Linked DNA regions of Homo sapiens: region 2 is linked to region 1. A link means that fine-mapping ties the variant in region 1 to the expression of a gene that starts in the linked region. Tissue or cell type: subcutaneous fat. Region 1 holds a variant in brackets; the other region holds the start of a gene. All regions are shown on one strand. Distances are from middle to middle. Region 1 has its middle 21 kb from the start of LY75-CD302. Region 2 holds the start of PLA2R1 (phospholipase A2 receptor 1).

What was found. PIP is the estimated chance that this variant, and not a neighbour inherited with it, causes the effect. A credible set is the group of variants that fine-mapping cannot tell apart.
Region 2: it holds the start of PLA2R1, and the variant in region 1 is the best candidate, but not a certain one, in a credible set for the expression of PLA2R1 in subcutaneous fat (TwinsUK, PIP 0.81).

Annotation. Positions count from the first base shown.
Region 1 is chr2:159,924,203-159,927,114 of GRCh38, reverse strand. It overlaps a transcript of PLA2R1 not described here. Among named protein-coding and RNA genes, the nearest start is that of LY75-CD302, 21 kb to the right of the region's middle. The variant A/G (reference allele first, on the strand shown) is at 1,291.
Region 2 is chr2:160,061,575-160,064,486 of GRCh38, reverse strand. PLA2R1 (phospholipase A2 receptor 1) reads left to right here and starts at 1,872. Exons shown (of 30, transcript NM_007366.5): 1 at 1,872-2,192. The coding sequence starts at 2,084.

The sequences.
Region 1 (2,912 bases):
TCCTCCAAAGTCACACTCCACCCTTCTTTACCCTGCTCTGTGCCTCAGATGATGTCCCTTGGTGTCCTTGCCCTCTAGTTTTGGTTGGGTCCAGCCCAGTGTGGGGCTGGGAAAGGAGATTTGAAGATGGAAAGTAAGCAAGTTTGGAGATTTGGGACCCCTTGGCTCCCTCCTTGCCTTGCTGGAACCTAGCACTGGCCACATTCCTCCACCGGGGACGCAGTGCTGGTCACCTGCTCCTCTCCATAGCTTCAGTGTTTTCCAGATCCAGGAACAGCAAACACACTGTCTCTTCAGGCCTGGGGTGGTGAAGGCTCCCTGCTCCATGGAGCTGGGTGGGGGGAAGGGGTAGTTCATCATCCCTTGTTACTTCCCTTAACCTTCTCACACCTTTATAAATACAGTAGTCCCTTTATTAAACTCTCTCCAGTGACCACTTCGAGTGAGCCACCCATTTCCTGGAGAGCCCCTACTTATACAGCAAGCTTGCAAACATGCCACATGCTTTTGATATTGGAATGGCTCACTATTTAGCCATCTTTTTTCCCCCAACTTTCCATTTCATTTTTGTGGGAAGCTTTTCCAACACAACAACATAAAATTCCAATTAAACACATGTTCAGCCCTACTAGACTCTGGGAGCAAGCATAGTAAATCATTCCCAAGTAAGCCATTCTTGATCTAAAATAAGTGTGGACACTAAAGAAAAGGTTATTATAAGCCCAAACTGCTAAATTATACTTTCATGACTGAACACAACTGTAATCCATATTATTATTTTAAATTACACTATAAAAAGCAGTCATTTATCGCCTTTCCAAAACACAGTGATAATATATTACCAAATTATCAAGGGTTCTTTATTAAATCTCTTGAATTTGATTTATAATACATGAGGTAGCTTATCCTTGAGAAAGATCTACTAAAAGGTATACTTAGTCTTAAAGCTAGTGAAATAAAATCTCCCTCTAATCAGCTGCCAGAAAGCTTCCGCTTCAGTGCTTTGTTGATACTGGTGTCAGCAGGACATTAAAAGCTTGAAGCTTTTTACGTTTGATCAAATACCAACATTATGCTGAAGCAGAAGTATTAATTCATAGAGTAAAGCTTCCAGAACCTCTCCAGCTCTCCTTCATCCTTCCTCCCCCCACCAAAAAGGTCACATCAAATCAGGGGTTCAGGGACAAAACAGAGACGGGCATTTTGTCAGTGTTTCATGTACACAAAACCACTCTAGAACCCAAGGGAGAGACAAGCACTAAAATATACTTTTCTAAAAATGCCAATCCC[A/G]TCTAAGAAAGGGGAAAGTAACTGTTGCTGAAAAATAAGAAGGTGACCTGGTTATTATTCTCATCTTATAATGAGAAATGGAGCACCAGAAAGGGTCAGGAATTTGCCCCAAATTTTCAGCTAGTGTTTGGGGAGCTGGGATCCTTGTCAATCAGATCATATTACTACAGTCCCTTCCTGAACAAAACCTCTCAACAAAGAAATAGGAAGCCTCCAAGATTAAAGAAAAAATCATTTTTTTCCACAACTTTTTTTTTTTTTTTGCTTTGATTCCAGGCCTTCTAAAAGAAAGTTTTTATTATGCTGCCAAATTCACAAAAATGTTCAAGGGAACAGATTGAATTTTAAGTGTGTCTCAGAAACCTGCAGGAAAGTGTCAACAATAAAAACAATGTTCTCAGAAGATTATTTATACATAAGAGCCCAAAATGTATTTATATTGACATCTACATAGTTGCTGTAAATGCTAATTTCAGTTATCTTTTACATGGCTTTCTCCCCCTTGTCAATACACACATACGCACCCCTACAATGGAGAAGTAATGCAGACACTGTGCAGCCTGTAAGATGCTTACCATTGCCGTAACACAATTAAGACATGCAAGATCCTAATTGATTGTTTGTTTGTTTTTTTTTATAACTGACGTGGAAAATAAGAGTTAGCACCATTGTTTTTAACAGGTATACAGGTGAGAGGAGCTGGAAAATTCATTGCTGACATGGAGAAATACATGTGTATCGGGGAAAGGGGGCAGATATAAGAAGGATCATTTTGGTTTGTTTGAAAATCACATATCAAAGTGTTGAGGAAACAGAAGTTATCCACATCGTATTGCCCAAGTCCTTATTGCCATAAATGTATTGGACAACATGGGGCACCACAGGAGTAATATGCCTCAGACCAGATTGGAAATGGAACGTACCGTGACATACAACCAACTGTTATTCTTAACAAAATATAGGATCTAACCAAATTGTCCATACTGGGGTCTGGAACAGATTTTTCCTGGGAGCGAAAAAAGAACACGACCCCAAATCCACTTCTCGTGTTTTTATTTTTTATTTTTTTATTTTTGTTCGCACCGCCCCCCCCCCAGCCCCCAGAGTAAAAGAAAACTGTTTTCTAGGTAAATGGTCTTTCCTTAGCAGTACTTGCATGGCTTGGCATTTGGTGCCCAAAGCATTCAGCAATAGGTAACTTCTTTCAGTTTAAAGATTCTGGCTGGTCCATTACATAGAATTTCATTTTTATGAATCTTTGAAGACTATCGTACTTGATATTTGACATCCATTTTGGCTGCTTTCATCTTTGAACACCTTTCCTGACATGAAGCTACTCCCCAGCCTCCTCGCAGCTCAGGAGCAGGCATGGGACATAGGCTCCACCAATGAGATCTGAATAAGAGAGACTTCGATTCAGAAGCAAATGACAATGTCCTAGGCTGAAGAGTAGTCCCTACAGATATCAGATCCTAATCCCTGGAATCCGAATGTTACCTTATGTGGCAAAGTCTTTGCAGATGGGATTCAGTTAAGGATGTTGAGATGAGGAAATCATCCTGCATTACCCAGGTGGGCCTCACATGCAATCACATGTATCCTTAAAAGAGGCAGTCAGAGGG
Region 2 (2,912 bases), 140 kb before region 1:
TCAAGGGAGGCATTTTCCCCCCTCATTATACAGAGACTAAAACAGGACCATAGCACGTGAATAACTCACCCTGGTCCACAGCCAGTGAGAGGTAGCCCAATGTCCCAGCAACTGTCCTCATTCGTCAGGGTGCCCCAGTGGCTGCCTTTATTTCAGCCAGGCATGCCTCACTCTCTCCCATACAAGCAGTTCTCACTCCAACCTTTGTATAATTTTTTTTTTCACAATTTCTTCCCATCCTAGAACAGCCTCTTCCTCCCAATACCCACCATACTATCTGAGCATAGTTAGGCCTCTATGCCCACTCCAGCCTAGTCTCTCTCCCCTTTACTCTCACTGCCCTGGACCTCACCAGAGATTAGCATCAGTGTCCTGTTTTATGACCTAATTATGTCATGTGCATTGCACTTGCCTGCTGCAATACATGCCAGCCTGCTCGGGCAGGGCCAAATCTTCTATCATAATACTACGGGGATATTCCCATAGCAATGTAGTTCTGAGGCCATAGGAGAGATGGATACATAGTTTGTGGCTGAAGTCTGTGTAATCTACTAGGCTTAAAGCATCTCTTTTCTGCATGTTTTCAAGCAAGGATGCTGAATTCTACATGTAATGATATGTTATAAACTCTACACACATTGGAACCTCTCACATCCTCTCAACCCACCTCTTATTCCAGCCCCCTCTGCAGCCTGTTTCCCCCGGCTGTCCCCCACCCCCCAACCCTCTGAGAAACAACCTGACAGCGCCTCACCTTTTGCCATGCTATGCACCCAGGGCTTCTAAGAGACAAGGTATGGGACCATGACTGAAACTCACCACTGCTGTAGAACAGTGCAGAGGAGTTAATAACCCTAGGATCTCCCTTACCAACAGGGAAGGATAAAGTCCATGGATAAACGCTTGCCCCTTTTGTCCTCGACAGACAGTTCTGAGGCTCTCTGAGGTTCCTGCAGGACTGAGCACCTTTTGTTAAGGCCATGGCCAAGGCAACCACTTTCCCTTCTTCCCCATTTGGCTCTGACCTTCAATCTTGCTCCCTGCTAGGCATTTCCTTCCAGGCTCTGCTTTCTGCCCCTCCCCTCCCCCTCTCTTATGTTTTAATGACTAATGTCAAGGTCCCGCTGAGGAAAGGTCTTATATGAGCCTGTTCTCAGAATATTAAACGCTTCCAGTGTTCTGCTGGTTATTTGAAGGAGGACAGTTAGAACGACTACATTCTAGCCAGGGCTGTCCTACTTGCTAGAGAGTAACTTTTGCTGGATTAGGAAGTAACCTAGAGCAAAGCACTTCGACTTTCTGGGCAGGGTTTCTCAGCTGTAAAAATGGGATAATAGGGACCCCGGCTACTTTGCGGGGCTTGGGGGATCAAAGGAGTTGGAAAGAGGAGGTTATTTCAAAACCGAAGGAGCTGAATAGAAGAATCTCCGGGTTACTCTGGGGCAAGGAAGGTGGAGACCACGGCGTGGCCCCTCAGGTGTCTCCAGTGCTCCACAAGTCAAAGGAGTCCAGGACCCTCCCAAAGCGCCTGCGTCGCGGAGCAGCTGGGTTCACTCTAGGCTGCCCGCTGCAAATCCGCGGTGTTTACCAGAATCCAGGTGGTTTGCAAACCCGGATGTCAGGCTCCTTGTCCCGGAGATTCTCAAATCGCTCACCCACAACTCCTCTTCGGCCTCCCCCAGAAAGGAGAGAGCAGGGCTGCAAGCTAGAGGAGCGGAGAGTGTGACCCGAGCAGCCTCACTCCGCCTGTCCCCACCCCAAAGGCAGGAATTTCTGGGATGGGCAGATGGCCCACCCCTCCTCCTCCTCCTTCCCCAAGCCGCAGTGGGTGGGGCGAGGAAAACCTCCGCGACTTTCCCGCATCCCAGCCCAGAGCCCCGAGTGTCGGTTCACTGTGGAGACAGCGGTGGCGGAGTGGGTCTCCAGGGCTCTGGGCTGGCAAGGCCCCCGGAGGGGGTGGGGCGCGGAGGAGGCTACGGATCCGCTTCCGCGCGGCGGGGCCGGGTGCTTGGGACGCGGCTCTGGGCTCCCGGGATAAGGGGCTCCCGGGACAAGGGGCTCCCGGAGAGCCCAGTGGTTAGCGATGCTGCTGTCGCCGTCGCTGCTGCTGCTGCTGCTGCTGGGGGCGCCGCGGGGCTGCGCCGAGGGTGTGGCGGCGGCGCTTACCCCCGAGCGGCTCCTGGAGTGGCAGGGTGAGTCTCCCAGGGTCGGGGACTGGATCGGTACGTTGGGGAGGGGGGTCGGGGTGGTCGAAGGAGAGGAAGAAGGGGCGAAGCTAGGGGCCAAGCTGGCGGGCAAGGGCGGCCGCGTTTGTAGGGGTTCGTGTGTCAGCAGTCCTGAGCATGGGGGGAGCGGGTGGTGTCCTGCAGCCTCTTGTCTAGGCCCAGCACCCCACTTGCGCGGCCCGGCACCCTCCTGGCTCCTGCGGGGGTCGGGCGGCGGGGGCGGGGGGGCTTGGTCTCGCAGGTAACTCCTCTCGGCTCTGGCGCCCGGAGCCAGCCCGGGATAGGAGTGTCGGAGAAGTTTCAAAACGGAAACTTTCTGAGAGCTGCTTATTTGGGACGGATAAATGATAGCAAAAAGATGGCTCAGTTCGTCCCCTTGCAAAGCAAGCGCTCAGGGTCTGCGTCGCCACCTAGGAGTGACCCCCAAGCCAGGCCTCCCCAGTCCATCCCTTCCTTAAGGAAAACTTTTTTTGTTTGTTTGTTTTTTGAGACAGGGTCTTGCTCTGTCGCCCAGGCTGTAGTGTAATGGCGGGATCTCGGCTCACTGCAGCCTCCGCCTCCCGGGGTCAAGCGATCCTCCCACCTCAGCCTCCCGAGTAGCTGGGACCACAGGTGTGCGCCCGCACGCCCAGCAAAATTTTTGTATTTTTGGTGGAGACGGAGTTTCACCATGTTGCCCAGGCTGGT